Regions from separate parts of the Homo sapiens genome. Here regions 2 and 3 are each linked to region 1. The links come from fine-mapping of genetic effects on gene expression. A gene starts in region 1. Each other region holds a variant in brackets. All regions are shown on one strand. Distances are from middle to middle.

What was found. PIP is the estimated chance that this variant, and not a neighbour inherited with it, causes the effect.
Region 2: its variant is the best candidate, but not a certain one, in a credible set for the expression of LIG3 in subcutaneous fat (GTEx, PIP 0.56).
Region 3: its variant is the best candidate, but not a certain one, in a credible set for the expression of LIG3 in monocytes after LPS (Fairfax 2014, PIP 0.62).

What each region holds. Positions count from the first base shown.
Region 1 is chr17:34,979,332-34,982,093 of GRCh38, forward strand. It overlaps LIG3 (DNA ligase 3), which reads left to right and starts at 1,181. Exons shown (of 20, transcript NM_013975.4): 1 at 1,181-1,291. RefSeq lists a silencer at 1,206-1,635.
Region 2 is chr17:35,028,487-35,031,248 of GRCh38, forward strand. The region is part of intron 1 of RFFL (ring finger and FYVE like domain containing E3 ubiquitin protein ligase); the gene reads right to left. All of the region lies in intron 5 of RAD51L3-RFFL (RAD51L3-RFFL readthrough), which reads right to left. Among named protein-coding and RNA genes, the nearest start is that of RFFL, 34 kb to the right of the region's middle. RefSeq lists an enhancer at 124-173. The variant G/A (reference allele first, on the strand shown) is at 1,402.
Region 3 is chr17:35,101,500-35,104,213 of GRCh38, forward strand. It overlaps RAD51D (RAD51 paralog D), which reads right to left. Exons shown (of 10, transcript NM_002878.4): 7 at 1,955-2,045; 8 at 1,755-1,825. RAD51L3-RFFL (RAD51L3-RFFL readthrough) reads right to left here. Exons shown (of 7, transcript NR_037714.1): 3 at 1,955-2,045; 4 at 1,755-1,825. Among named protein-coding and RNA genes, the nearest start is that of RAD51D, 17 kb to the right of the region's middle. The variant AT/A (reference allele first, on the strand shown) is at 943.

The sequences.
Region 1 (2,762 bases):
GAGGAAACTTAAAAAAATGTAGCAAATGTAGTTGTAGAGACGTGCTCAAGATCACTCAATTATCATAGCTAGGACGTGAGTCTCCAGCGACCTTCCAATTGCCTGGTTGAACCAAAGCCCTGGTTCATTCTGCTGCGCATTAAAAGCAGGCTTTACTCCCCTCCAAACAGTAGAATCGCAGTTAAACTTAGTCAAACAAACTTAATGTATCCAATACAAAACTCATCTTTCTAACCCTAACACCTCCTCTTCCTCTCTATTTTCTATTTCAGTTGATGGTACCATTATGTTTCTGCTCACTCAAATTATTATTATTTTATCCATAAACGAGCACTTTATCTAGAAGATCATTTAAATTCTAAATGATCTTCAAAAACGCACTTTACTCTCCACCCTAACTAGCTGAATCATCTCCCACATGGGTCACTATGAGAGCCTTCTGATTTGTTCCCTTGCCTCAGTCTCTCCCCACCCAGCTTCAGCAGTATTCCCTAAGACTCTTCATGGCTCTCCGTCCTCTACAGAGTAAAGACGACACTCTTCATCACACAGCACAGAATTCTCTCGGGAACCTGTTCTTTGCTTACCTAACAAGGCCCAGTTGTTTGCTCTTCCTAGACTCTGAAGAGGTCACTTACCCTCAGGCTGCTACATTTGTAAAAATCGCCATCCCAACTCTCAAAGAGCTGGCTTCAGATTTGAGATAATACACTTTGAATGATATACAATCAAGGAGTTTCTCCTCCATCACTCCTTTACATTTTATATCTATCTGCTGTTTAGTGCCTCGTCTCAATTCCATGAAAGCTACTGAATACAAACTATTTACTAGGGAGTCTGCGGGACACAAACAGAGGGATTATATTTAAAAAATAGATTGACGCGATCTTTGCCTTCCCCGACCTCATTACAATATAGTTTCTCCACCAATATCTTTAAAAACAGATCCTCTCTAACAGTATGAGAAAATCAAGGGGAGCCTCGGAAGTTCAGGCCAGGCTGCGTTCCGAGGAGCCGCCACGTCCCCCCACCTCCGCTTCCCGGGCCGCGATTGCAGGTTGAAAACTACTCCCAAACATCACAGGGCAGGCAGAATGCAACTACGACCCACGTGGCAGACGGGGGCGGGGACCGGTCGCGTGGCCGCGGCCTTGGCTCTTGCGCCTGCGCGCTGCCTCCCGCTCTAGGACCCGGATTTAAAGAGACAGGCGCTCCAACCGTCGTGGGCTGCCCGCGGCCTGTAATGAGCAAGTTCCGAGGCCTACGGTGAGCGCCGGAGCCGGAGAGGCAGGTGAGGGGCTACGCGGCGCGGCACGGCGCGGCGGGGCCCGGCGTGGGGAAGGCAGCGGGCCCGGGGCGAGGAGCTCGGCGCGGCCGGGGAGCCAGCCCCCCGGCTCCTCCCCCGCCCGCCTGCGGAGCCCCGGGGCACACCCTCCGTGACGTGGCGGCCCTCCCGGGAGCCCAGGGGGAGGCTCGCGGCTCCCCGGGACCCCCACGGGGCCGCGTGAGGCGGGGAGGCCGGCGCCCGGGCTGTGTTCCCTGTGGAACCCACGGGGCCTTCTCGTACCCTGGCCCGGCGTGCGTCCTCCTGCGCTGAACCGGGAGCGCTCGGGTGGGACTCAGGGAGCCTTGATCACTTCCCGCCTGCGTCCCGGACCCGGTGGAGGAGCGCTCCTTTCTGCCTCGCCGGGGGTCGCGGCCTACGCCGCCGACCCCACTGTCCCCGCCACTCTCCGACAGCGGCGCGGGAAGCCCTTCGAGAAAAGCGGCGGCGGCCAGGCCTCAGCGATTTCCTTCTCGGGCCCCTGGGCTGCGGCAGTTGTGAGGGTGCGGAACGAGGGACAGACGGGTTTCCTCAAAGCTGCATTGTGCCTCCTCGTGGCCCAGCGCCTCCCGAGCCTCCCTCAAGTCCACTCCTTTCATTATTGGGGCCCTAGAGGTTGCTCTGTAAATTGATCTTCTAGGAAAAGTGTTGAAACTCACTTGTTCTGACCTCCTTTTATGGGTCTGCCGTACTTCCACTTACCTCACCTCTGTGGTTCTTAAACTTTGGGAGTTATATAGCCCTTTGTGAATATCACGAAAGTGATAGACCTCCTCCAAAAAACCGTGCATTTTTATCGAATGTACATTTTGTATACATTTTTAGAGAGCTCAGAACAGCCTCCCTCCCCCACAACCAGCGCATTCATGGATTCCTTGTAATTTTCCCAACTACCCTGTGAGGTAGGTATTATTTACCCTGCTTTAGAAATAAGAAAACAGATGCAGATAAATTAAGAGTTTTCTCCGAGGTAACAGTCAGTAAACTGTACAGTCAGACTTGCACTCCCATCCCTTATTCCAGGTCCACCAGCTTTCCTTCACATCATGTTGCACTACAGTAAGCAAAGCCTGCTTTTTATTATAACGTGACAGCAATTTTGCTTCACAGCGTGTGCAGACTGAACATAATTCCAGTATACTTAAAACTAGGACTATAAAATGCTTTAGAAAACATGAATATAAGAAGATGCTGATATAATCTTTTTCCATTTGGATTGATTTATGAGTTCCTGTGAGTCTTGCTGCCCAGTGACTTCAGCATTCTCTGATTCAAGTTGCTGAATGATAAACAGGTTAATTGCACATCGGAAGCCTCTTCTTGAAAGATAACGACGTCACCGATCATAATAGGAGCTGACGTTAATGAGAGCTCTTGCTGTGTGCCCAACTGTTTTAAGGGTTTTACTCTTAGAACAGCTCTTTAAGTTAGGCCCCAT
Region 2 (2,762 bases), 49 kb after region 1:
TAAGAGGGCCCACTCAAATGCCAAGCATTGATGTGAGATATGAGTATGTTTTTCTCAGTAGACTAAAGCAGCCCATGTAGATACTTTGAGCCTGAACTCTTTGCTTACAGAGACAATAAATGAAACATTTAGTGTTATTATTTGATAATCAGTTCACACAATAGAATGCTCTGCTGTCTCCTGACTCATTGTTTTAACAAGGGCACTTTCATAAGCTAGAAGGAACTAAGAAGCCAACTGATTCAACCTGGGTTATTTCATCGAGGAAAAAAGAATGAGAACCAGCAAGGGGAAGTAACTTCCTAGGTCAAATAGCTCATAACCTCAGGCCTCTTCACTTCTCTAGGTCCTTTTTAGCTTTCCAACACTGCCTCCACTGCACCTGTGATATAATTCGCTCCCTTGCAGGGGTCTCTGATTAACACCTGTCTCCCCAACTGGCCTGTAACTTGCCTGTAACCCCCACGACAACAGGGATTGTGATAGTCTAACAGTGCCCAATTAGACAGGTAGCTCAACAAGAACTAGCAAATGAATTAATCATATACAATATCTAAGTCTTAACTAATCACACATTTGTTCAATCTTCAGCACATCAGAAACATTTCTCTCTGACTCAATATAACCTGTCTGAGGGTTCTAAGTTCCCAGGAGAGGAACTTAGTTCCCAGGAACTTAAGTTCCTAGAATAAGAATTGCAAGTAATCTGCCTTTACTTGCAATTAACAGTTCACATGGAATAATGAAGTAAAGAGTTCTTCACAGAGTGTGTGTATGATAAAGTAAATGAGTTCTTTGCTGCCAAGAGAAATGGGGACAACAGAGGAGGAATAGCCCTCTGAAATATTTTGTAGTTTTTTTTTTTTTTTTTTTTGAGACAGGGGTCTCACTCTGTCACCCAGGCTGGAGTGGAGTAGCATGATCTCGGCTCACTGAAACCGCCGCCTCCCAGGTTTAAGTGATTCTCCTGCCTCAGCTTCCTGAGTAGCTGGGATTACAGGCAGCTGTCATCATGCCCAGCTAATTTTTGCTTTCTTTTTTTTTTTTTTTTTGAGACGGAGTCTTGCCCTGTCGCCCAGGCTGGAGTGCAGTGGCATGATCTCAGCTCACTGCAAGCTCCGCCTCCCGGGTTCACACCATTCTCCTGCCTCAGCCTCCCAAGTAGCTGGGACTACAGGCGCCCACCACACCTGGCTAATTTTTTATTTTTTTTTATTATTATACTTTAAGTTTTAGGGTACATGTGCACAGCGTGCAGGTTAGTTACATATGTATATATGTGCCATGCTGGTGTGCTGCACCCATTAACTCGTTATTTAGCATTAGGTATATCTCCTAATGCTATCCCTCCCCCCTCCCCCAACGCCACGACAGTCCCCAGAGTATGATGTTCCCCTTCCT[G/A]TGTCCATGTGTTCTCATTGTTCAATTCCCACCTATGAGCGAGAACATGCGGTGTTTGGTTTTTTGTCCTTGCAATAGTTTACTGAGAATGATGATTTCCAATTTCATCCATGTCCCTACAAAGGACATGAACTCATCATTTTTTATGGCTGCATAGTATTCCATGGTGTATATGTGCCACATTTTCTTAATCCAGTCTATCATTGTTGGACATCTGGGTTGGTTCCAAGTCTTTGCTATTGTGAATAGTGCCGCAATAAACATACGTGTGCATGTGTCTTTATAGCAGCATGATTTATAGTCCTTTGGGTATATACCCAGTAATGGGATGGCTGGGTCAAATGGTATTTCTAGTTCTAGATCCCTGAGGAATTGCCACACTGACTTCCACAATGGTTGAACTAGTTTACAGTCCCACCAACAGTGTAAAAGTGTTCCTATTTCTCCACATCCTCTCCAGCACCTGTTGTTTCCTGACTTTTTAATGATTGCCATTCTAACTGGTGTGAGATGGTATCTCATTGTGGTTTTGATTTGCATTTCTCTGATGGCCAGTGATGGTGAGCATTTTTTTGTGTGTGTTTTTTGTATTTTTAGTAGAGATGGGGTTTCACCATGTTAGCCAGGATGGGCAAATCTCCTGACCTCATGATCTGCCCACCTCAGCCTCCCAAAGTGCTGGGATTACAGGCGTGAACCACCATGCCCAGCCAATTTTTGTATTTTTAGTAGAGACTGGGTTTTGTCATATTGCCCAGGCTGGTCTCAAACTCCTGACCTCAAGTGATCCACCTGCCTTGGCCTCCCAAAGTGCTGGCATTACAGTTGTGAGCCACCATGCCCAGCCAAATTTTGTAATTCTTTAAATCACACGTTGACAGACAAATCTGAGACAGTATGTAATAATAAAAAGAATATAGAATCTGGAATAAGAAGGCCTCAGTCCTAAGTCCTGCTCTACTTACTTAAGGGCTGTGTTACCTCCCTCTAACAAGTAATAGACTTTCTGTACTTCATTTTTCTCCTCTGGACAGTCTGTATGCTATAAAGCACTATATAAACATTAGTTGTTGTTATCCACATTATAACAATGCTTTTAACTACAATTTTTCTGGGAAGGCAAAGGTACAAAATAAACCTAATAAACCTACAGATTTCACAACAATTACCATCTGGCTTTCTGGGCTTGTCCCCTGCAAAGAGGACAAGGTTGTAGGCAATTCACTAACTTTTTTTTGGGATGGAGTCTCCTTCTGTCGCCCAGGCTGGAGTGCAGTGGCATGATCTCAGCTCACTGCAACCTCTGCCTCCCAGGTTCAAGTGATTTTCCTGCCTCAGCCTCCCGAGTAGCTGGGATTACA
Region 3 (2,714 bases), 120 kb after region 1:
CAGGTCTGGAACTAGAACCTGGGCCTCCTGACTTGTGCCCCGCTCTTTCCACTAAATCTCGATGCCTCAGGTTTGACCCGAACCAGAAGGCGATGGGGCACATGTCACCATGCTTTCCAGGCTGGTCTCAAACTCTTGAGCTCATGCAGTCCGCCAGCCTCAGCCTCCCAAAGTGCTGGGATTACAAGTGTGGGCCACCACGCCCAGACACTCAGCCTTTAAAAGGAAGGAAAGTCTGACACATGCTACAAGGTGGATGAACCTTCTGGACATTATGCTAAGTGAAATACTCCAGTCACAAAAAGTAAATACCATATGATTCCATGTATATGAGGTTCCTAGAGTAGTCAAAAAGCATAGATACAGAAAGTAGAATGGTGGTTGTCAGGGGCTGGGGAAGGGGAAAATGAGTTATTTTTAATGGGTACAGAGTTTCAGTTTTACAAGGTGAAGAGTTATAGAGATGGATGGTGGTGATGGTTGTACAGCGTTATGAATGTATTTAACACCACCGAACTGTATACCTTAAAGTGGTTAAGATAGTAAATTTTATGTTACATGTATTTTACCACAATAAAAGAAACTGGAAAAAATATATAGCTGCTAAAAATTACATTTCTAAAAAATCTATTTTAAAACATAGGAAATGGACTCAGATGGTATTTTTTATGTTGTTGTTTTGGTTTGTTTGTTTTTGAGATGAGGTTTTGCTCTGTTGCCCAGGCTGGAGTGCAGTGGCATGATCACAGCTCACTGCAGCCTCGATCTCCCAGGCTCAAGCAATTCTCCTGCCACCAAGGCCACCTAGTTTTTGTATTTTTTGTAGAGGTGGGGTTTTGCCATGTTGCCCAGGCTAGTCTCGAACTCCTGGGCTCAAGTGATCCACCAGCCTTGGCTTCTCAAAGTGCTGGGATTACACGCATAAACCAGCGCACCTGGCCT[AT/A]TTTTTTTTATTTTTTCATGAGGTTAGTTTAGTTAGAAAGCTGGTTAAGTGTGGGCTCACACCTGTAATACCAACACTTTGGGAGGCTGAGGCGGGTGGATTGCTTGAGCCTGGAAGGTCGAGCTGCAGTGAGCTGTGATTGTGCCCCTGCACTCCAGCCTGGGAAACAGAGCGAAACCCTATCTCAAAAGAAAAAAAAAAGAAAGAAAGAAAGTTGGCTAAAAGTATAAGTAAATATGCAGAAAAAGTATTGTATGGAGATATGTAAAAATATTAATATGGTTTCTGTGGATGTGGAGATTGATGACAAATTTGAATCATATTTATTTTCTATCCTTTCTATGAGAAGCATGCAGACTTTAAAAAAACTACCTCATAAGCAGAAAAAGTTACTTCAATAGCAAAAAGATCCATTTATATGAAGCTCTGGAAAAGGCCAAACTATTGGGATGGAAAACAGATCAGTGGTTGCCTGGGCCTGGGGGACCTTTTGGTGGGGTCACAAGACTGGATACAACTATATCCATTAGTCAAACTTCAAACAAGGAGAAAGTTACTCTATGTAAATTATACCTCAATAAACCTGACTAAAAAGAAAAAATGTAGAAACAAAACAAAACAACAAAAAAACAACAAGACGATTCCTGATTCCCTTAGCTATTTATGGTGCAAAGCTGTAGCTGACCCAGGGAAGCTGGGATATGTCCCTTTCCTAAAGGGCCACTTTGGGGTTCAGAAGCTGACATTTAAGGGAAATAAAGAGCTCGCAATAACTAGAAATCAAGTTCATTGGCCAAGCCTGCTTCCTCACCACCACTGCCATGCCAAGGTCCCGGGCCAGGGTCTTCAGCTCTCGGGCCAGCTGCATCATCAAGGCCAAGCCTGCAGGAGGAGGAGAAGCAGAGAGGGAGGGCAGTGGGGAACCAGGGATGGGGCTGGCCAGAGACCAGACTCCAGAGCTGGGAGGCGAGGTCACATTCCACTGGCCCCAGGCTCTGCCACATCACTCACCTTCCCTCTGCTGACCTCCCAGAAGTGGGGAAACCACCGCAGTGACCGAGTCCACAACCACCACCTTCACAGTTCCTGAAGAACCAGTCACCTGAAGGAATGTGGGGGAAGCACTCATGAACCTGTCAGCCTCTAGGACACATTACAGGACAAGCTTGCTTTTCTATCTAAAACTAGTAAGAAATAGCCCCCCCATCCCAAATACAGCAAGCTGCACGGGCATCACAGAATGTCATCAGCAGCAATGTCTCCCTCGTCCCATTGGCATGTGTAACAGACTTCAATGAAGACTTGGGTAGAAAGAAAGGGTTTAAATCACAGGACATCAAAACTACACTAAAGTGGCTGGGCGCAGTGGCTCACGCCTGTAATCCCAGCACTTTGGGAGGCCAAGGCGGTGGATCACTTGAGGTCAGGAGTTCGAGACCAGCCTGGCCAACATGGTGAAACCCCGTCTCCACTAAACATACAAAAATTAGCTGGGCGTGGTGGTGCACACCTGTAATCCCAGCTACTCAGGAGGCTGAGGCAGGAGAATCGCTTGAAACTGGGAGGCGGGGGTTGCAGTGAACTGAGATCACACCGCTGCATTCCAGCCTGGGCGACAGAGCAAGACTCTGTCTCAAAAAAAATAAAATAAAATAACTAAAAACTACATTAAAGTCATCAAATTTCAGAAAGCTCCGCAGAGAGTCCTGAGGCCTCTGGTCATGGATCTCTCAGCAGCCATCTCTCTCCTGTGTCCAGCCTCCCACCATGG